Linked DNA regions of Homo sapiens. The protein of the gene in region 1 purifies or fractionates together with the protein of each later gene. This does not show direct contact. Each region holds a gene or a part of one and is shown on either strand. Other genes may lie near its edges.

Region 1 (7,919 bases):
TGTTGGGTTTGCAATTTATTGAATGATAGTTTTTCTCATTGACAGTAAGAAAAGCAGAATATATAATATCTTGCATTATTAGTGTTAGTTTTTTGATGCTGGCATGAATGATATTTCCTAGGACCTTATTTAAAAGGATCTATTGTAAAGTTTGCTTGCTGGGTATTACTCTTTTCTACTAAGTAACTATGTGATCTTAAAGTTACTTAAATTTTTAGAGTTTTGTTTTTTTAATTTAAATATGAGAAAGTTAAATGATCTAACTCTTCTTCCAACTCAGAAATTCATTGTTTTGGTTTCTTCACACATTTTTATTTTTAGACACAATGTATATTACTATAGTAACATTTTGCTTTGGGGAGCAGGTTCATTTAATCATAGTAAAAGATATAATTGAAAAGAATTTAGAATAATAACATCATAAGAAGGAAAGTATGGAAACCAAAAGTAGTTGATAAAAAACCTTTTAGCAGCACTACTAACATTATGTTTGTTTAGTGGAAATTGGTAATAATATTTGTTTTATATCTCTTGAAAATGATTTTGTTTACCAGTTTCTCTGAGTTTATATTATGTTTTTTGAATCCTCTTGAATAGCTGTTTGAGAGTATTATTAATATTTTTAAACTATTGTACTGCATATTAGAATACATGGATTCTGACATAGCTTTTTTCTAAACAAGTGCTTCCCTCTGTCACTTCACCAGATGTTTACATTGTAGATTAATTACATTGTTGAATGTTGACCTTTAATTATGAGGCACACTATTTCTAGTAATCCAAGTAATAATAATCATAGCACACGCTTCTGTGTGAATATGACATTACATTTATTAATTCAACAGAAATGCCTACTGTGTGCCATACAGTATTCTATATTCTGGAGTATATACAAATAATGGAAAATATGAAGATAATGGAAAAAATCCCTGTATTCACAGAGCTTACATTTTAGTGCAGGAATAGAAGAGATAAATAACTAAAATTTATGTTATGTTAAATAAAGGTGAGTGTGCAGGAGAAAAGTAGCTAAGGAAGTAGAAGTTTTCAGGGATGGGACCAGGCGGTTGTGATTTTTGGTTAAGTGACCTTGTAAGTCTTCATTGGGAATTTTTTGTTTGATAACGACCCTAAGGGAAATCAGAGAGTGGGCCACGTAGATACCAGGGCAGAAGAGCGTTCCAGTTAGAGGAAACAACAAGGGCAAAGGCTTTGAGGTGGCAGTATGTTTGATGTGTTTGAATACTGGTAAAGCGGTCAGAATAACTAGAGTAGAGGAGGTGAAGTCAGTGAGATGACGAAGGGTTGGGTAATCTTGGTCTAAAGAGCCAATATGAGTGAAATGGAAAGCTATTGTGTGGTTTTGAGCAAAGAGAAACATGATCTAATTTGAATTTTAGTAAGATGACATTGGCTGCTATGAATTAATTTTTTTTCTTACAATAATCCTATAAGTTCTGTTATTATCTTTGTAGTATATGTGAGGAAACTGAGAGATAAAGGGGTGAAGTAATTTATTCAAGGTCACACAAAGTTTTAGAGCCATGGTTTAAATGCAGGTAGTTTATTAGCTTCAGAGCCTGCAATTTTAACAGTTATGCTGATGTGATAATTTTACTCATGATCCAGTTAAAGCTTGTAAATAATTTTAGGATTCAGTGTTTTTACAGACCTGTGTGAAAGATGGGACATACCATTAAAATACTGACTTACCTGATTTTCTATTTCTTTTATTTGACTATGCTGTTGGTTTAATTGTTTATATTGGTCTTCCACGGTCTGGAGAAGGTCTTTGATGCTATTATCTTGTTTTTCTACAAAAGTCTGGATATAGAGAGTAGGTTGGTTATAAGTTGCTTTCCTCTTTCTTTTCTATTAATTTCCTGTAACACTATCATAATCTAAATTTTTAAACTAATAATGGATTTGAAAAATGAATATTGGCAATTCCTTCCCCTTGTATGCTTCTTTCAAATAGCACATATTTTTGTCCTTAACATTTTATTTAAATTGTACTATCTCTAAAATTTGATTTTCTGAACTTCAATTAAAAGAAAAAGCCCAGCATATTTTCATATGAATAAATCTTTTCCATTTACTGTATTATTTAATCTGTTTTAAACACTGGAGAATAGTTTTAAATTTTTTTTAACTTTTTACTTACCTTCAGTAATTTACAATAGTGTAATGACATAGTGTTCTAGATTGTATAATTTAACCGATTTGTAATTTTCATATAAAATGCAAATTTTCAGTGTTTTCATATATAACATTAGGGAAACAAAAAACTAACTTGAAATTATAATAGGAAATTTTATTTTCTGGAGATTATTTTTCTTGGAAAAAAAAGTATTTCAACAATGCAACAAAGTATTTCAAATGGCATGCCTTAGAAATATTTTTTTTAAAAGATCCACATTGAAAACATAAACATGAACCCTCTTTATTTTCTACTTACTTTAAGTGAAGTTACTTCTGGGTGTTCTGGAGTTTCAGGTTGATTTTGAATTAAGTTAGTTAGTTGCTCTTCTAAATATTTCACTTTTTGTTGAAGTAGAATTTTTTCTTCTAGGAGGCTTTCAAGTTTTGAGTTGAGTTCAAGTGACATATTCTTTACCTCTTCATTTTTGACTTGTAGTTTATATGTAGTTCTTCTCAGTTCCTTTTCTTCTTCTTTGATTTCACTGGTTTGCAGCGATAGATCATAAAAAGACTGATCAAATATGTTGAGTTTTTGAAATATGTCATTAATTTGGCCCTTCGTCTTATGGACAAAGTCTTTAAGACCATGTCCCAACTGAAGGAGGCCATTGGCTAAAATTTTTACATCGTCTAACATAGCAAATCTTGATTTTGGCTCTGGAGATAGAGAATCAAATGATGAATTGTCTTGATCAATTCTGGAGGAAATAACTAGAGGAACAATAAAAAGAAGGAGCTTAATTGTGAACATTTTTATCTTGATTTTCAATTTCAAGCAACGTGGAACTGTTTTCTTCTGGAAGCAGACCTAGACTTCTTAACTCTATATATACCAATATTTGCCCAGAAAAGGTAAGGTTGGTAGGTGAACATAGTTAATCATTAAGCCGTGTTAACTTGCACGAATGTAACCTTCTTCCACATTGAGTTAGATCAATGCTAAATGAAATCAAAGAAATGAGCAACTAACTTAATAGGTAATTTGAAATTGTATTTAACTTTGCTGTATTATAAACTACACATTCAATGCTATGGTGACTACCTGTTTTTAAAAGCTAATTTTACTTTTTTATGATTTTAAGAGATTTACAAGTCAAAAATAAACTTTTTTGTTGGGTAAATTTATTATTAAAGTTGAGGGGAAAAAAGTAATGAATTAAGTATGCATTTCTCAAACTGTACTTTAGTTCTTTTGGAAACAGTGATCCATTCCAAAAAACACTTTCTCTCTGAAGCCTTTCTCCACTCCCTCAGGTGGTGTTACGGCTCTCAATGCTGTGTTCCTCTGGTACTCTGTATAAATCAATGTATAATTATATGCTCCTCATTTTTTGTCACTATAATTGTTAATATGTTTTTTTGCATCACCTTATATGTCTTAACCATCCTTGTATATTGTCACAAAATCCCATATATAGTAAGTGTCATTAAAGACATTTCACTCCCTTTTCTCCACTGTGTTCTGTGTCTCTGTGTTCTAGGCTCTTTACCATGTGCTCGTTGAAGGAACAATGGATATGTGGTCATCTAGGACCAAACTAGAATTGAATCTTAAATACCTTCAATGTCACAAGCAGCTTGCCCATCATAAGTTTTTCTGAAGTTTGTTAGCTTAGTAACAATTTTGATAATATACATTTAACAAAAAGAGGAGATTAATAACATTTTTTTTTTAAAGATGATGTCTTAATGTATTGCCCATGCTGGTCTGGAAATACTGGGCTCAAGCAATTCTTTTACCTTGGCCTCCCAAAATTTACAGGCATGAGCCCAGCCGATTACAAGCGTGAGCCCAGCCAATTAATAATATTTCTAAAAATAAATGTTCCACTATGCTTCCAACTTAGTGTTAAAAAAATACTAAATGCTTATATTAGTGATTATTCTTATTGAGTGTTCATATTAAGAAATTTGTGAGAAAATAGCATCCTTTAAAACTGCTTAATCTTGACATATTAATATGGTGAAATTGTTAAGAATATGGGTGCTGGAGTCAGACTGTGGTGTGGGTCCAAAAGCCGGCTCTAGCTGTCTGGCCTTGGACAAGTTACTTAACCTCCCCATGGATTAGTCTCCTCATCTGTAAAGCTGGGGTAATTATAGTACATAATTCATAGTGTTATGATAATTTAACAATAATACATGTAGAGCACTTAGAACAGTGCTGGGCAAACAGGTAGTGCTCAAAATGCTAGTTATTATGTCACATGAAACTAACTTTTAACCTGTGTATGTGTGTGGGTATATATAATCAACCTTACCTAAAAGAAATTTTTCATAAAGTTAATAGCTTTTTAACACAGGGAAAAGTTTTATCATAATAAATTTCAGTGTAAATTATAAATTGTTAATACAAAATAAACCATTTCCAAATTTCTTTTCTTTTTTAGAGACAGGGTCTTGCTCTGTTGTCCAGGCTGGAGTGCAGTGGCATGATCATAGCTCACTATAGCCACGAACTCCTGGGCTCGAGCAAGCCTCCTCCCTCTGTCTCCCAAGTAGCTGAGACTATAGATGCATGCCACCACACCCAGCTAATTTTTAAATATTTTGTAGAGACTGTGTTTCACTATGTTGCCCAAGCTGACCTTGAACTCCTGACTTCAAGTGAACCTCCCATATCAGCCTCTCAAAGTGCTGATATTAAAGGAGTAAGCCACTGTGCTCGTCCCTAAATTTCTATTCTTAGAAATGCCTCTTCATTGTGTAAAATAGAGGCTCTTCCTTTTGATGACTTAGGATTAAGGGTTTTGGGTATAATAGTTACAGTAGAGGCAGTATTCCATAGTGGTTAAGAGCATGATTCTGGAATAAGACTGCCTGAATCAGAATCCCGGATTTCATATTCTTCAGCTTTGTGACCTTTGGTCAAATTACTTCACATCTCTGAACCCCTGTTTTCTCATCTCTCCAGTGAGAATAACACCTATTTTATAGGGTCGTATAAAAGATTAAAAGTTTATATTTTCAGAGCACTTAGAACATTATCTGATGTATCATAAACACTACACAGTATTATATATTAGCCATTTTTGTAATTAGAACTAATCAATGCATTTGTACCCATACTATAGTATTTTACTGGTGAAAATTAATTGCATATTAAGATAATGTAAATTGAGAAATTTTGTTATAGTCTAGATTTTCTGAATTTTGGTCTCGTACCTTTTTAAAGAATTACATCTTTTGATTAGGTTGTGTATGATTTTTAAGTGTCCAATATAGAACCACAAAAGGGTAAGAAAATATTCTTCATTTCCATCTTACCCTTTACTCTGGTTCATGTAATGGAATTATAGAAGTGTATGTTGAGCTAGAGAAGAAATTCAAATTTTCTCCTTCTTTAAATAGAAAAGTTACAGTTGTAATTATTGGTCATGAAATACATATTTCAAAACTTCTCTTAATTAAGCTGTCAGCTTTTGTGGCTTATAACTATTGACCCTGATATTTCATCCACTTGCTAGTTGAGGGAGAATATAGATGGGCCAGCTTCTCTCCCCTATTACACTATAAGCTGTTGATTGGCAAGATTTGTATGTGTTTTTAACTTATATTCCTTATAATGCTTTAGTACAGTAATGCCTTACACATTGTAGAAACAATATTTATTGAATAAGAGAATGATAAAATCAACATATAGGGATTTCTAAGTGCAGAATGTATACGTAGTAGTGTTTACCCCCTTTTGATATAGTACATTCTTTTTAGAGAAGGGAATTTGAAGAGTAGCCCCTTTTTTAGTTAATGAAAGTAACTGAGCACTAGTACCAAAGACAGGCTTTATGAAATTATTTCCTTCTATATTATATCCTACTGTAGTAGGATACTAACACTTTTTGCAAAATTTGTGCAATTTCTCACAAATAACACTGACAGAGTAGAGGTAATGGTCACGTAGTCTTGGTTTCTAGTATATTGTCTCTTGGTATAAATATCTGTATAATTCTTATAGTAATTTGAACAGCATTATTGATTATAATTAAAGTAATTTGCCTAATTATAAACTGCAGAAGCATTTCAACGTGGGAAAATGCATTGAAAGTAGTAATTTTATAAAGGATTTTCTGCCTGCCTTTTAATACTTCCTGTCTGAGTACACACTGCTAAAAGCAGAATCTGATCTTTGCTTGAACTTGTGCCTATTTAAATAGAACCCTGATCAAATATAACCAGTAATGTAAAAACTAAAAAATTTTATGCCAAGGAAAATAAACTTGTAAGCAAATGTAGGGCCTAATTTAAGGATTCCTAGTTCCTAGGAACCAATATAAAAATTTCTTAGCTACAGAGAATTTTAGGACATTTAAGAGCCTAAATTGTTTAAATTCCAAGCAAAGCAAAGTCCTTTATCCTACACGAGGTTGTGTAATCTTATGGAGATATGTCTTTCAAATAAAATACAAGGTATTTTGGCTCTTTTTTACATAGTATCTCTAATTTTTTCCTTTTTAACTACAATAGTTTGTTTTTTAATTAATGTTGTATAGGAAGATCCTATTGTATGTTTTATACTGAGAACATATCTCAGTTAGAACCACTCACCTATCAAGTGCTCAATTGTCTCATTAGACCGTCTTTTTGGACAGTGTAGATCCAGAGGTTAAGTGAGCTTTGAAGGAATAATTTTATCTATCTTACTGTTTTGTGTGTTCACTATTAACATGTTAAGTTTTATACATATATATTTTTTAGTTGAACAGCCGTATCTTTGGACATGTAAAGATTTTTTCTTTATTTATTTTTGAGACGGAGTTTTGCTCTTTGTTGCCCAGGCTGGAGTGCAGCGTCGTGATCTCAGCTCACTGCAACTTCCCCCTCCTGGGTTCAAGCGATTCTCCTGTCTCAGCTTCCCGAGTATCTGGAATTACAGGCACCCCCAACCAAGCCTGGCTAATTTTTGTATTTTTAGTAGAGACGGGGTTTCACCATGTTGGCCAGACTGGTCTCGAACTCCTGACCTCAGGTGATCTGCCTACCTTGGCCTCCCAGAGTGCTGGGATTACAAGCGTGAGCCACCATGCCCAGCTAAGATTTTTAATGTGCAAAGTACTTATTGTGAAAATTCAGGTATTTCAAAAACCTATAAAAAATAAAAATCTCGACTCTATTAACATTTTGGGTCTATCATACCAGACCCTTTGAATGACTAAACATAATTTTTTATAACACAAGTGGGATCTTGTTATGTATAATAGCTCATGATATATATATCATTCAGGATCTTAGTATTTTAAAATTTATTTTCCTATGAATGTCTATAGAGTTACCACGTCCTTTTTAATAGCTGCATAATCCTGTTATATAGATGAACCTTAATTTAATCAGCCCCCTTTTAATCATTTGTTTCCAATTTTCTAATTATAAACAGTATGTATAGAAAATGCTTTTATGGTGGTGATGTATGTATATAAATATTTTCATATACATTCATAGATGTTGACTTGTAACTTACGATTGCTTTTGTCAGATTGTCCTTCAAAAGGGTTGTACCAATTTACATCCCTGCCAGGAGTATATGAGAGTTCCTCTTTTCCTATATCCTTTTACAAATGCTTTTAATGAAAAAGGCAAAAAATGTTGATAAATCTAATAGACAAGTATATATCTAGTTTGTTTTGCTGGCCATCTCTGTTGCCGTCTTTGCGAATCATCTGGTTATGTACATAATTTGCTCCCCTCCTTGTTACCCTCTTTTTAAGTTTGTCTCTTTCTGA
Region 2 (8,148 bases), on another chromosome or scaffold:
AAGTTTTAAATTACTCAGACCAGGCACTGAAATTGCTTCAATATTTCTTTATGTATATTTAATGTTTTCAATACACTAAAGATACCACACAGCCAATAAATAGTGGTATAATTTTGTGAACTGATTAGATTATGAATTTATATTTCAAAAAATTTTAAATTTAGTTCTCTATTGTCTGAGCTTGTTAGATTATTCCTAGTTTTGCTAGCCTCTACCTCCTGCATAATTTATTCATTTTAAAATAAATCTAGTTAATAAGATGATTGACTTATCTACTGTATTAAAAACTTAATGCATGGTGATTTGAATAATAAGTTTTTATAGACTAATAGCACTAACCATATCTAAAATTTACAAAACCCAAGTAGTCTGTAAAGTTTCTTCAATAATCTAAATTACTACTTCTAAAACTTTTATTTACAAAATTAAGATATCATTTAATAATGGCTATAATTAGGATACTATTTTAAGTAGCCAAATATTTTATTCAAGTTGGTTTGAAAAAGAAAGAAATTCATTATCTCACACAGCAGTAAATCCAGAAATATAGTAGGGAGTCAAGAACCCAATGATTCCATCAAGTACCCAAGGTTTTATATTTTTTCTGCCATTTTAAGGCATTTGTTTTGCCCTCAAGCTGAATCTCCTCGTGACAAAAGATGATCCCTGTAGCAATTTGAAGAAGCATGTATTCCAGATAGGACAAATATCAAAAGCCAACATGTGCTTTCTCATCCAATGTTCCCTTGCTAAGTGGAACTAAATCTTTTCTACCCATTCCCCTTAGTCCTCTCATTTCACCTGACATGTGACATATGACTAAAACTGGGACAAGGAACAATCACTGCCAAGGGGCATAGAAACACCAAGATTTTTAGCTGAACCTAATCTAAAATTCCCTTGAATTAGGAGTAGGATTGACTTCCCCTGAGTTATGTGGGAAAGAGTGGACATTTGAATAATACCAGGGAAAAGAAGAATAAGGAATAGATTTTAGTGGACTATCAATAATTTATGCCACAGTACAAGGAAGGTGATATAGCTCTCAAAAGTGAAAACATGCTTCTTACAAATGGAAATGCAAGAAACGGAAAGAAGAGTTAACTTCAGGTACAAAATCACACCTGGTTTAACCCAATGTCATTGTCATTAAAAGGGAACTTGGAGCCAAGTACAGTGCTCACACCTGTAATACCAGCACATTGGCAGGTCAAAGCCAGAGAATTGTTTAAGCCCAGGAGTTCTAGACAAGCCTGGGCAACACAGTGAGAACCTGTCTCTAGAAGGAATTGTAAAAATTTAAAAATTAGCCATGCATGGTGGCATGCACCTATAGTTTCAGCTACTTGGGAGGCTGAAGTGGGAGGATTACTTGAGTCCAGGAGTTTGAGGCTGCAGTGAGCTATGATTGCACCAGTGCACTCCGGGTTGGGTGACAGAGTGAGACCCTGTCTCTAAAATAAATAAATAAATAAACAGGAACCTGGACATTCAACAGGAGAAGGAAGCAAATAAGTGTCAGTGGTGCTTGATGCTTACCATTACAGAAAACACAAAGTGAAGCCAAAAGCCAGAAAGAGACTGAAAGACAGTTATTTCTTATTGTGATCTTGACAGTATTGTCAATTTTCAAGTACAAAACTATTACCTTAGACCCATCCCTGGAACTTCAAGGTGGTCCAGACCTACTAAACTGATTTATAAATGTGAAGCTCTATATATTAACTATTTCAAATTAACAAGTTTAAAGAGACTGCTCTTGTCACATACTTCAAAAATAAAGTTGAATCATTAGTTTCAAATAAATCAAACATCAATAATAAACTAATTTTAAAATAGATGTATCTCACAGAATGGTCAAGCCAAGCAAAAAGAAGGGAATATAGCGAACTAAATTATGTTATATATGTTTTAATTATAGGTCCCCTTCATAAGATAGTAATTTGTTGTACTTGTACATATTCTAAATTCGTTTTCCAAACTTCTTAGCACACATTTAAATTTTTTATCAACAATGATCAGTAAGTAATCCACACCATATAACCAAATATATAATCTTAAATAAGTCAATGATGCATAGAAAAATTATCAAGTTTCCATATGTTCAGAAAAAAATTATTTTTTCAATATTATTCATAAAAATTGTTAATACTGGCACAGTTACTTACTACCAAGTAGATAACTATTTAACACATCTGTTCTTTATATATGAAAAATAAACAAATATAAGACAAGATGCAGAGCCAAATCATAACTCCTCCCAATATAGTTAATGCTGTGATTAAAAATTTTTTTAATTTGCATGTTCTGAAATTAAATATAAATATGAAATCGAGAGCACAACCTACTCCTTGTGATTCCAATTACATGCTGATCAGGTCTGGAGAAATGGAAAAAAAGAAAGAAAAACAAGATGGTTGTTTTGCAAGATAATCCAGCTAAAATTATTCAGCTAAAACTATTAATCCAGCTAAAACTCCTTTATGTAATTACTAATGGTTAGTTCATGAACATGGAAACATAAAGGAGGAACATCTCTATAACTGTAAAATCCACAAGTTGTTCTCCTAAACCACATTCATGGCTTCATGCCTTCTTGCCTATCCCACCTGCTCTGACTGACACTGTCCCTTTTCAATGCCTGCCCAACTCATCCTCATCCTCTGTGACTTGGTCTAAGAATCACCTGCACACATTCTTTCCATACACTGCTTCCCTTCACACTGGTGAATACCCGCTTTCCCCACTCCTCCTTCCTCAACATCCTCTGCACTGTACCTCAGAATTATATAGAAATACCAACTTCTATTTAAGTTAATAAGAGGAGGTCTCTGTCACCTACTAATCACACAACTACAAAAAGAACAAGTGTTATTTGATAAGTATTTATTAAATTCAACTGTATCATATCAGAATCTCTTTATTTGCAGATGCACAGTTTAAACACAGTTATATTTCCCAGAATGAGAAGGGGGGAAAGACTTCAAATGTATATTAAGTGAATGGAAAATCACTGAATAAAGACAAAATCTCATTGAATAAGAAAGTCCCAAAGAAAGATTCATTACATTGTAGGATACAGTAAATTCCTCTTCAAAGAACCAATATGTTAGTATATTGAGCTTCCCTGTTCTTTGTTTTCCATTTGAAAGTTTAACTTCCTCGTTCTTTACATCTCCTTGTCCCTAGCTTTAGTAAACAACCCCCTCCTAGCCTCTATCACCTGCTCTGTCCTTAGTCATCCTTAGTCACCTGCTCCCTCCTTAGTCACCTGCTCTGTCCTTAGTCATCCTTAGTCACCTGCTCCCTCCTTAGTCACCTGCTCTGTCCTTAGTCATCCTTGGTCACCTGCTCTGTAACCGTCCTTCCCACCAAAGCTTCTCACCCCGCCACTCCAGCTCATACCCCTGCTGTCTTTAAAATAGCCAGTTGGAATTATCTTAGACTGTGCGGTCCAACCCTACCCAATAGGGGAAAAACAAGCAGTAGGGACTAGCTGCATTAATAGTAAGATCCCCTTCTCCTCCCTTGTCTGGTGTGCTCTTGCCATTGCTCCATCCGTGAGAGGCACCCTTTTATAGAAGTAAATTGCCTTGCTGAGCAAACTTTTGCCTGAGTGCTATATTCACTTGGCAGCACCGAGCATTTACTTCCAACAACATCAAGTCTAAAATGTTGTTCTCTAAAACCTCATCTGTACTACTCTAGAAAATTTTATTTTTCCAAATTGATCATGAATTTCCTAGTCTGCTTAATGTAATCAGCTAAACCTATGATAACTCAGATTTTACAAATTTAGTAGTTCTTCCTTTAAAATGACTAAAGACATTAGCAATATGAGACCTCTTACTGATTTACTGCTAAGAAGCTTAAAGGTTTTTCTCCTACATATCCAGTCATGGTGATGCATTAAAACAGAAAAAATAATTCATAAAAATTTAAAGCAATAGCCATTGTTACTCTAAAACAATGCTATTTTATAAATCTAAAATACCAATAGACTTTTGCCATTTCATATTGCATTTACGTAATTTCAAATAAAATTTGTTTACTCAAATGTGACTCCTTAAAAATTCTCTCAAACTATATTCTGAGATACTACAATCCATAAACACCCTCTAATTATATTTAATTAACATATTCAGCATAGAGATAAATTGCTTTGAAATTAATTCAGTTATGCAATTGTTCTTTCTAATCAGCCAAACTTTCTCTGTATTTATTTGCACTACTAGTAAAGTTCAGTGTTTATGTTATTGGACATCTTTATGACTATAATAACACACATCATCAAGGAAGTAAAAGGAGAGTTTGATCATCAACCAAAGTCCTTTATTACTACACAGTTCCTCAAAGCAGACAAAAATAAAATAAATTACAGAGCATAACATGTAGTTTGACCTTCAAAGATACTTTACAAAATACTGTTTCTTAAAACTCTCATTAGTACTTATAACCCTATGTTTTAATTCACCTAGGTTGAAATCTGGGTAAATGAACCTATTTGCTATTAAAATTTTACTTAAAACATGGTATCTCTTGATGGTTATAAATGGCTATGAAAAAAATTGAGAAGCTAAAATCACATTTATTCTCTTATTTCAATTTTTTATCCCAAATTTGCACGTTTGCTACCATACTACAAATGTTCTGTTTGATTTTTTTTGGCTAAAATTATATTTAAAATTGATATTATCTAATTTAAATACAAACCAAATGAGAACAATAGTTATCACCTCATGAAATATTATACAGCTATAAACAGGCAAATCATTAATGATTCAGTCAGTAGATTATGTATGCTCTGAAATGATTGTCTTTATTTCTATAAGAGGGTAGACTGAAGACTGAGCCCACAGTATTCAGTCTCCTCTCTTATAGAAATAAGGATAGCCATCCATGGTTCCCCCAGGAACTTCAAGGATCTTAAACTTTGCCTTTGTAGCTCTGGCAAAGTTTAAGATCCTTGATGTTCCTGGAGGACTGGTGGATGAAGTTTCAAGAAATGGATCAACTGTAACACCTAATATTAAGAAAAAGCTGTACCATACCAGGAAAACACTACATTTGTATAAAATTCTCACTTCACAATACCTGATAAACTTATCAGTAGTATCTAACTTCTAAGTAGTGAATTTACCTTCTTACAGTAGTTAACTGTACATGTGCTTGTGTTCTACTTAAGAAGAGTAGAAAGGGCTTCCATGAGTATGCCATCATTAGAGCCTACAACAAAGAATGTAGGTAGAAGATCTTGCCAACTATTTTTCTCTTCTTTCGGAGGTATAAATAGAAGTCTAAAAACACTTTTAGAATTTGGAAAAAAGAAAAAAAAAAGGATTTCTAGGATTTCTAGCAATACTTATCTGGGAAACATTTTTAATTAGTTGTTAAAATTGGGCTCAAAAATATCAATTAACTGAAGCTATTTTTCCCTACAGAAAAACTATAGCACAAATAGAGAAACATCAAAGAATATATATGTATCATAAGTATGCACACACAGAAAGGGAGAAAGAAATGGAGACAGAGAGAGAGACAGACAAAGAGAGAGAGAACGACAGAGACAGAGAGACAGAGAGAAAGTAGTCCCCCAAAATATGGAAGTTTCTAAGGTCTATTCTGAACTTCTTCATCAGGAGGTATATGATACAGCTGATGTATAGGTACATTTATATAATGTTAATAGCAAAAAACAAACATGAAATAAAGGCAGGTATTGATATCTAGATGCACTCTCTTAGTTGCATCCTAGAAAATACATACAAGGCTATTCAAAACTTCCTTTAAAAAGCCATATTAATCTTTGCAATTTAGCACAAAATATACTGAAAATCTTAATTTCTATATAAGTTAACTTACTTATTCATATTATGTGTGCAAATTAGGGCAGCCTTTTCAAAACTATTTTTAAGTATACTACACTGAAAGACAAAACTAATTTCAAATTCGCCATAACTATACCATTTCAATGTAAACAGAAAATTGACACTTACTATCCCACACAATATTTGAGTCAATTAACTGTCCTCTGATGACAATCATGCATGGTAAGCATCATTAGAGTGGCTGAAAACATTTCTTAGGCATAAAACAAACAAAAAACTCGCAAATAACAAGGGCCTGAAAACAGTATAAGCATTGTTTTCTAAGTCTTACTCTGGAACAATGACTTTTAGCCATTCTCTTTAAAAATAAAGGCCTGATTTCAATTTCATATCCCCAGTATTTGAAAGTGAAGCGATTTCTCCATTCAAAGTTATACCATTTTTTCCTCTTCCAATCTGAGTATATTTTATGCTCTTATGGGAAAAAGCTTAAGTTTCCTGATCTCTAAATGCATTAAGGCAAACAATATTAGATCCACCAGCCTCTAATACGTTTAGGGACCAGGGCTCATGGCAGTTATGCAGTTAGCTTCTGTAACTATCTTTGAATTCATTATTATACTGAAATAAAATAACTTTTTTTATTCTTTAGAGGTTTTAGAAAACAAATTGCAATATCGCGAATTGAATCACAAATACATCACTCTGCTAAGTAAAATTTAAATTAAAATCACCTACCATTCATCAATGGAAATAAGAATTTTAAGGATTTCTAATTTAAAATGAAAGGTAAAATTTGACATTTTATATTAAAATTACCCTAATATATCCTCAAACAGCCACTTGTTCAAGGATACCCATAGTGTAAGTTTCAACCCAACTACTATATCCCATATACACGTGCTTTTTACAGATTCACTATTAATTATAATATAAAGTCTAAAAATAAAAGCTATGACTAGGTATTTTAGCAAAAGACTTTATCCTTTAAACAATTTATCTATACTTATTCTGTTTTCTCTAATAAGTTGATCTGTTCACCCGAAAAAGAGTTAAGTTAAACATCCATGACTGTAGCACAGTACAATGAACCATAAAAATATGTAGTATATTTTACTAATTGACATGTCACACTAAAAAGTAAATATTTCACAATGATCATAATGAATCAACAATGAACAGGCTCATAAATTATAGACAGAAACATAGGCAATAAATGATATGTTGGAAAAATGTTTAAGAAGTAAAATAACATGCACAGAAATCACAGAGCTGAGAAGTTCGGTGCTGATTGGAATACAGGCCCGATGATGCATGATATGCATGCAACAAACATTGGCTGGATTTATTAATGAATGGCTCCAAAATCTATCCTCCAAATTCTTAAGGAAATTGTTGTGGCCATTAAGAAAAGAAAGTCTGTTTGTATGTCATAAATATATTTCAGCTTCTCAAGCATTATTTCTGAGAAGAGAGCCAAGTTCTGTGAATATACTTGGTAACTTCTCATAAAGGTAAAATTAAGCTGGACTTTAAAAATAACTGGTCTTGTGTATAAATATAAACTGAAATAAAAATAAATGAATGTGCTAATTGTTCTTTTCTGTTTGAGAAAATGACTCAGCCTTAACCATAACAAAATCTCCCTTATATCCTCAAAAATTAAAATGTATGATTAAATTAAAGCTATGATTAAAATGTAAAAGTGGTAATTTTTATAAATTAGATCCAGATATGTCATTATTACATGGGTATTCAACATAGAAGTATTCCTATTTTATCCCCATAAACTCAACTGAGTCAGCTGAGTCAGAAATCCTATGACCTTTATGTCGAAAAGCCTATTAACATTATTTCATCTCTTTAATTCTCACAATAATCTTGTAATTATGTAAAGGAAAGTTTCTTTACTTTGCAAGTGGAAAAACTGAAATCATAGTCAGGGAAAACATTTGGCTGAGGGTGATTCACAAAGTGAGTCTCAGAAAGCAGGCTAATATTCACAATCTCAAACTCTTAAATACAGAGGAAATATAAACCACATTAGTTTGTTTGTTTGTTTGTTTGTTTTAACCATTTAACCCCTAAGCCCACAATAGTAAACCTACAACCCACCTCTCTGAAGAAAAAAAAAAGAGAGATGAAACATACACAACTTTAATACACAAAGAAGAGTCTGAATTGCAGTTAAGGCTTTGAGTTCCTAGCTGGTTTGGAATTAGGAAGCAGTAAAGGGCAAATGTGTGAAATACTGAGATCATCTCACCTTTTACTTCTTTACATGAAAGAGCAAGATCTGTTTATCAGGATCACTTTTGAT
Region 3 (8,148 bases), on another chromosome or scaffold:
GGCTACTGTGGCAATTTACAACAAACTGAGGGGCTTGAAACAAGATAAATTTATTTTCTCACAATTCTGTAGGCCAGAAGCCCCAAATCAAGATGTCATCAGGGCCATGCTCTCAAAGGCTCTAAGGAAGTCTGTTCCATGCCTCTGTCTTAGCTTCTAGTGATTCGGCCTCCATCTTCACATAGACTTCTCCTTTGTATCTGTGTCTCTGTTTCTCTTCGTGTAAAGACACTAGTGATTGGATTGAAGCCCTACCCTAATCCAGTAAGAGCCCATCTCAGTTTACATCTTAATTACATCAGCAAAAACCCTATTTCCAAATAAGCTCACATTCACAAGTGTGGGGGTAGGACTTGAACATATCTTTTTGGGGGACACAATTCAACCCATTACAATAATTATCTGTTGAATCGAATATCCCACTGTTCTCTTACAAGATCATGTGCTAGCAAGCTTGTGCAACCCGCCTTATTTTGTTGTTTTTGTTCTGTTTTGTTTTGCTTTAGGTTTTTAGCAGCTTGAAGCCGTGGTTTTTAGTTTCTGTTTCTAGTGATAAGCAGAAAAGAGCGATGGGGAAGGGACTTTACTGGCCCAATCAGAAACAGAAACTAAGAACCCATGACTGTATTCTCTTCCTTGGACATCCCCGAGTGTCCCAGGACTTAGTCCTGTAACCTTTTCTCTTTTATCCACTTTCATTCCCTAAATATTTTTATCTGTGCTTTAAATGCCTTCTATATGGAGATGACGTCCACGTTTTTATTTCAAGGCCTGATATCTCCCCTGAACTGCAGACCCCTATATCTGACATCTCCAACATGTCTGATGAGATTAGACAAATTTATCATGTCTGAAACAAAACAGTTTTCCTCTGGCCAACTCACTCCAGCTCCAGTCTATCATATCTCAGGATAGGACACTATTATTCAAAGAATCGCCTTTTATTTCTCTTTTCCTTTCATCTATACTTCCAATCCATCAGCAACTCAAGTTGGTCCTGTCTTAAAATCCTAAACCTGAACTGTTCTTAAGCCACCATTGCCAATATTCTGGTCAAATTTATATCTTTTCCAGACTGAAAGTCTCCTAGCTGGCTTTTCTTCTTCCACTCTTGTCCCGCTACAGTCTGTTTTCCACGTAATAATTTGTACGATATTTTTCAAACAAAGCATGGTCATACTCCTGCTGAAAACTCTCCAATGTCTTCCCATCAAACTGCAAACCTTTAGGGCCCTTTATGCTCTGGCCTCCATCTACTTCTCTGATCTCCTCCCCTACCAGTCTCCTCCTTGGTAATTTTGCTCCAATCTTAATGGATTTCTTACCAGTTCTCCATCAAACCAAGTCTGCACCCCCCTTTTGGAGTTTTTTCCTTGTGTTTCCAGCTACCTTGAGAATTTCTTTCCCCATGTTTTTAGATAGCTCCCTTCTTGTCTCTTTTCAAGTCTCTTAATTACCACCTTCTCTAAGTGGTCTTCTCTAGTCACTTTACCCATGAGTGGATTTGCTGGATAGCCATCCTAGCTCTTTGGAAAAATGAAGTCATTTTTAAGCATTAATTTAAAATATGTAGGAGTGTAAGTTGGAAAAGTAACATTGATAAAGGTAGATGTAACATGTTCACATTTCTTAGTGTATTTTGTTGGTAGAAGCTCAAAACATTGAAAGTGCAATTAGTACTATGTGTATTTGACACACACACACACATACACATACACACATATATATATTTCAAAACAATGAATTATATCTTTTTGGATGTGAACAGTCTTCTTAATAAACAGTCCAATTAAAATAAGCCAGATGTGTTTGTAATTGACTTTGAATGTTGCACTTTAGACCAATGTAAATTCACCATCATATTGCATTTTAATGACTGGCAAATAAAAAGCTAAGGTCAAGAGATGTTTTATTTTTCTTTTACTTTTGCAATGGCATGAAACACTCATGAAAGGGTAAATCTAATACATGAAATTATTAAGAAGACATGCTATTTCCCCCCACAAGCTTAATAAAATTAAAAATTTTAGTAAGTAGTATGCTTCTAAAAGGCTTTCAGCAGTTATACCAGCAAACTGAAGCCTAGTTGTCTATTTCAGAAACTTCAGAATTTCCAGATTTTTCAGATATGTGTAAGAGCTGAATAGAAATTAAAGCAACAGAAAATGGAAGAGAAAACAAATCGGTTAGAGCTACTCTATTATGAAGAGATTTTTAACCCCATATCAAAAAAATATTTGCCACCACTACTCTGGACATAATATTTTTCATTACTATGTCACAGAATACAAATCTTTGATTCACTTTGAAATGAAAGCCACAAATACAGAACTAAGTCCCATACCTTAAGGAGCAAAAAAGGTGAATATTTTGCCAAAATTCTTCTCGCCTCAATAAAGGATAAGAAGGTCATGCCTAATAAAACAGTAACTGTTGAAATTCAGGAATTTGCCAAGAACATCAGTTTGATGTATTTGTTTCAAAGAGAGGAATTCAACATCCTTATAAGAGAAAGGTTGTATGTGTTCCATCCCACAGCCATGATCTATGTACTATGCCCAAGAAGGACCCACAAAAGTGGAAGCTCAGCTTTGTGATGGCCCAATCTCTGTTTTCCTCCTCATACAGTATCGGTTCGCCTTGTTGCTTCTTAAAGTATTGTGCTCCTGTTTATTTAAAGGATTCTTACTTTCAGAGTGCTCTGGGGAGGGAGTGGTAAAGATGTGAAGTGAGCCTTGGCAGCTGCCTAAAACCAAAACCTTCATGCCTACCATCTTATAGTCAGTAATTCCTTGGTGACATCTAACACAAGCAAGAGAAGCGTGTGGTGTGTTTAAACAGAAATCTATCAAACTTTTTTTGTCCTTATATATATATCCTCTTAAAAAATTACAGAAATACTCCTTTTGAATGCACAAATTCAGATTATTGTTACTTAGCAACAGAGGTTGAATGCTTGTTACACATTGTGAAATTGTACTATATTCCCTCAAAAGGAGAAAAGTTTCTCATTTATCTAGCTTCTAAAAATTCTAAGATATTAAGTCATATTTGTTTTTAATGTATCTCCTGATTGTTCTGGGCGATTTGTGAAGGATTTTGAATTGTTAAAGCTAGCACATATGTTATATGTACACAAGTTATGAAGCATAATAGTAAAACAAACACCCATGAAGCCACCTCCAAACTGAATTACGTATCTCATCCTGCCAGATTCATCCTCCAAATACAACTATCCTCAGTTCAGTTTTTATTGCATTGTTTACTTACCTTAAAAAGAAATGGGTTTTTGCCTACTTATATGTCTCAAAATAATATACCGCTGAGTTCTGCTTATATTTTGTGCCTATGATAAAAGAGTTATGAGACTATCTGTAGTCTGGTCACTTCCTTCTTAAACTCAGTTTTCTTACAAATGCCCACTAATTTATATTCTTCTGAAATATTTTATATTGGCAATATATGTTATATTAAGGTTTATTATAAAGCTGTAGTAATTAAAATAGCATTACATTTGTGTAGAGATAGGTGAATTGTTCAAGGGAACAGGATGGAGAGCCTAAAGACAGGTTCCTGCATATATGGAAAGCTGATTTATAATTGGAGGTAGCATTGCCAACTACATATTCTTTGGCTCATACAATTTCCACAAGCTATACTAGCACGTGTATACAGAGGTCTGTGTTGAAGGATGTTCATTACAGCCTTAATTATAATAGCCAAATATTATGAACAATCTTAATGTCTGTGAATATAATGCTTTAGAATATTAAAATATCTGTTACATATATTATAACTATAAAATGAAAACTATGCAACGGTTTAAAAGGAAAAAAAAACAAGAGACACTGATCCTCTATAACACTGCAGTTGGGACTGATAACTTAGTATACTCTCTGGGAAGAAATTTGGCAATATGTATCACAATTTACAATATGCAGATGTGACAGATTTCAGTACCTTGAACATCTTTTGAAGGGTGTGCACTCAGGTTGTAAATTTTATTGCTTGAAAAACAACAAAAAAGTTAGAATAAACTTACATGTCTGTCAATGGGAAAGTAGCTAAATAAATTATGAAATACAGTTAAGCAATTTTTTAAAATGAGATAGGGAAAACTTCCAGTAATGGCAATGAAATAAAGTGATTGTGTGGACCCTCTCAAACTTAAGAATTATAAGGATTATAAGATGTGGACCACATATTTTTAAAAACCCATCTTTAAATGCTTAAAAACATCCAAAAGTAGACAGAAATCACTGGAGAATGGACTGGAACTGAGTATTGGTATATTCTTCTGTACTGTTTAATTTAGACCAAGTGCAAAATAGTTTTAGAAGCTGAAAATACTTAGATTTCAATCTGTTTTACATATATTAAAATGAAACTTTTAAAACTATGACTTTAATCTCCCATGTATCTTTTAGATTAGGTTAGCATGCTTTGGTTCTTAGCATTAAAAGTACATCTGTCATTTTCCAGTAGATTGCCTTGTTTGATTGGGGTTATGTATCTTGATTCACTCAATCTCAGCAAATATTTATTGCTTGTCTAACATGTGCCAGACCCCCTCTAGATGCTAGGGATAAAGTAGTTAGCAAGACAGACAAGATTTCTGCGTACCTGGGTCTTACATTCTAAGATCTCTTTTGTTTAATAGTCTTATAAGCATAAGGTATGTATTCACCTGAAGGTATCATCCAGTAGAGGAAGAAGGAAAAAAAACTGTGAGGAAAAATGATAAGCAGAAATCTTACTTCTGTATATATAATAGAATCTCCGAATATTGGAATTGAAGGGATTCAGTATAGTTCAATGATTTTACAGGAGCATTTTGCTAAATATAGTGATTCTGTTTGTTTAATTCTTAGAATATTTCAATATTTTAGTCATCCAATTTTTCAGCCATTTTGAGTATAGTAGATTATGGAAGTATACTTTAATGAGAATTATTGTTCAGGTTTGCCTTTGTGGGGGATGCAGGGGCTTGTGAGAAGAATGACAACTTTTACATAAGTATGACAAGTATATTATGAAATGGAATTTATTTGTCTTTTAATTCCTCCATTGTTCTGTAACCTATAGGGAATGTGTTTGCCTAGTTTTGTTATTTTTACCCTATGGGCAAATTTTTTAGGGCCAAAAAGTTTGAAGCTTTTCTTCTTATATTCAATAATGTTTACCATCCAGAGAGTTCTTTATTATATATAATCCAAATGATTTCCCTTACTAACCCTCTTGTTTCGTTTACCATATGAGTTTGCTATTGAAATATTAAAACATCCTAATAAAACATCTCTACCTTAGCCAAGGGACAAGAACAAAAAAAGTTTCAACAGTATCAAATATTTTGTGTGTTGTTTTATTTTTTTAAAACAGAGTCTCACTCTGTCACCCAGGCTGGAGTGCAGTGGCGCAATCTTGGCTCACTGCAACCTCTGTCTCCTGGGTTCAATAAATTCTTTTGCCTCAACCTCCTAAGTAGCTGAGATTACAGGTGTGCACCACCATGCGCAGCTAATTTTTTATATATTTAGTAGAGATGGTGTTTCACCATGTTGGCCAGGCTGGTCGCAAACTCCTGACCTCAAATGATTCGCCCACCTCAGCCTCCCAAAGTGCTGGGATTACAGGTGTGAACCTCTGCACCTGGCCTCAAATGTTTTTTAAAGCATACTTTTCCCCAAAACTTTCTCTAATTTCAGCAAATTGTTTATCTCCTCCCTTATAATTTGTTCCACTAAACCCTGTGTATGATGTGATTATGCTGTGTTTCTGTGCTATGTACTTATTTTGTTACTTGTATCTGTAATATATTTGTGGATGTTTGGTTGCGTATATACACTAAGAACTGGCATTTTAATACTATTTTATGTTTTCTGAAATCATTCTGATCAAATGTATGATATTTCTCTAATAACTGAGTAACAACATCAGTTATAAAACTATAATGATTATCATCTCATCTTAGATGATTTAGGCCAGAAAGAGTGACTTTACTGTCATTCAGTTGAAAGTACTATTTGATTTCCTAAATTGTCTCATCTGGAAAGTTTTTTCTAGTGGGCTTCAGAGACATAATATTCTTTATCCTTCAACTCAGTATTTTTTTTTCTCTTTCTCTCTCTCTTTAAAAAAATTAAACAGCTCGATCAAGTCATCCGCCAAAGAAGCCTGTCCAGTTTGGAACTGTTCCTCTCCTGTGCACAGAAACAGTTAAGTGCTTTAATAGCTACGGAACCAGTTGACATTGAATAAAAAGAACATGACAAACCCACACTGGCATTGGATAAATCATATTACACCTTCAAAATACACACTCTGAATTATAAAGATGTGTTTGTTTTCTTTCCAAATCATGTAGAATTGATTTCCAGTTCAAGGATAAACCAAAACAATATTTAGAACTATCAAGTGATCTAATTTATTTTCTTTTGGTTTCTTCTTTACATTTACTGTTATTTTATTATTATTAGTAGTAGCAGCAACAGAGTATGATATGACCCAAAAGCCATTGTAAAGTGCCACATTACCAAAATTAATTAAGTAAACTTTATAGCCTGTGGGAGTCTATTATATATTATTTTGCAAAAGTAGTAAATATATTATTGTTTCATGATGACTCTTGATGAGATGCTAGAATGTAACCATACATTTATCTTATTTTGAGGATAGAAATAGCATGGATTTCAACATCACTTATTTATCTGTATAATTGGAAATAAAACACCGATATGATAGAGAATCATTCCGGCATTACCTAACCTCTTCTGCAGTTGGATCTATGTATTTTCATTGGTCTACTGAAAACAAACAATACAATTAAAAGCACTAAAGATTATTATATTAATTCAACTTTGATCTGATATATCACTTAAACTAAAGGGGTGTGTGTGGTGTATGCTTGTTTCCTATTTCTGCTCTTTAAAGATACTTTGAATCAATAAAACCATTAGTCTACAAATCAAATTGTGAACTTAATCTCTAGAAAGAGAATATAACTCAGCCATTTATAGGAATTTAGGTTCAAGTACAGGATATATGAAATCTTTTCCCAGTATTTCAGAATGTACTTAATTCACAGGCAGGATGCTTCAATGCAAAATCATGAATATTTTTAATTCAAAACTAAAATGTCATTAATATGTATGTATGCAAATGTTTTATCTTATTTTCTGAAATGCATCTACTTTCATGGGCTTTGTACGTTTCTGAGATTTCTCAGTGTAATAAAAAGAGCTCCCAAACTTATTTGGTTGTTACTTTTTGTTTTTTTTTAAATTTCTTTAAAAAATATATTTTATTTTTTTTTAGAATTTTTCTTTCTCAAGTTGAAATTTTCTATCCTAAGTCGTTTTATCACTCGAATATTTTAAGAACAAGACTAGCCTTCCTTATAGACCTGCTTGGCCTTCTAGCCCTGCTAAATTTTAATTGTAGATCCTTAGACAAGCTGCCTAACTAGTTAGTTAGACAAGCTGCCTAACTAATTTGAGTCTCAGTTTTCTCATTTGTGAGGTAGAAAGAGTGATTTTTATAGGCTATTAAAAAAATAAATCTTGTAAAGTACCCCATATAGTGCTTGCTGGTATAGCCTCCAGTTTATAATAATTTCCCTTTCTCTGGAAATTAATCACAAAATACAGGTGTGAGTACCTACAAACAAGTGGCTAAAGCATAGCATTCTGCCCCTCTAACCTTGACTGACTGACCCACAGGTGAAGACCTGACCCCAAGTGGGCCTCTTATGAAAAGTCTTATGGTGACATCACTTCAGCTTCCTTACCATAGGGAGACAGACATGAACCCCTATTTCTGAGGTTAGAGGTGACCCCAACCCTTTTTTTCCTGAGTCTCAGATTCTGTGAGATACCTGAATATTCTTCCAATATGTTATATTGAATATTCCAATATTCTTCCACTTAACTTTTTTCCCTTAAGCTAGCCAGAGCCAGTTTCTATTATGTGCAACCAAAAAACATTACCCAAAGCAGTCAAGCACAGATCCCAGCAAGTAATCCCTGGATACTTGGCACTTGTTGGCTTCTCATTTCCTCTACCGTACCAATCCGCATCCAAAATGGGAACACTCTTTGATTTATTTTAAGGAATGTTAAAAATATAACTGAACCAAAGCCTCTATTGTCT

What was found.
Region 2: the proteins of ANGPTL3 (region 1) and GULP1 purify together in Homo sapiens (affinity purification with mass spectrometry; 2 studies listed by BioGRID and IntAct, with this or other methods). This does not show direct contact.
Region 3: the proteins of ANGPTL3 (region 1) and CCDC91 purify together in Homo sapiens (affinity purification with mass spectrometry; 2 studies listed by BioGRID and IntAct, with this or other methods). This does not show direct contact.

Annotation. Positions count from the first base shown.
Region 1 is NC_000001.11:62,592,601-62,600,519, reverse strand, and holds the start of ANGPTL3 (angiopoietin-related protein 3 preproprotein), read right to left. Parts: upstream 3,001-7,919; 5' UTR 2,954-3,000; coding exon 2,459-2,953; intron 1,825-2,458; coding exon 1,714-1,824; intron 1-1,713. UniProt on the Homo sapiens protein: Acts in part as a hepatokine that is involved in regulation of lipid and glucose metabolism. Proposed to play a role in the trafficking of energy substrates to either storage or oxidative tissues in response to food intake.
Region 2 is NC_000002.12:188,294,340-188,302,487, reverse strand, and holds part of GULP1 (PTB domain-containing engulfment adapter protein 1), read right to left. Parts: exon of another isoform or gene 8,095-8,148; intron 4,997-8,094; exon of another isoform or gene 4,900-4,996; intron 1-4,899. UniProt on the Homo sapiens protein: May function as an adapter protein. Required for efficient phagocytosis of apoptotic cells. Modulates cellular glycosphingolipid and cholesterol transport. May play a role in the internalization and endosomal trafficking of various LRP1 ligands, such as PSAP.
Region 3 is NC_000012.12:28,542,916-28,551,063, forward strand, and holds the end of CCDC91 (coiled-coil domain-containing protein 91), read left to right. Parts: intron 1-6,147; coding exon 6,148-6,258; 3' UTR 6,259-7,251; downstream 7,252-8,148. UniProt on the Homo sapiens protein: Involved in the regulation of membrane traffic through the trans-Golgi network (TGN). Functions in close cooperation with the GGAs in the sorting of hydrolases to lysosomes.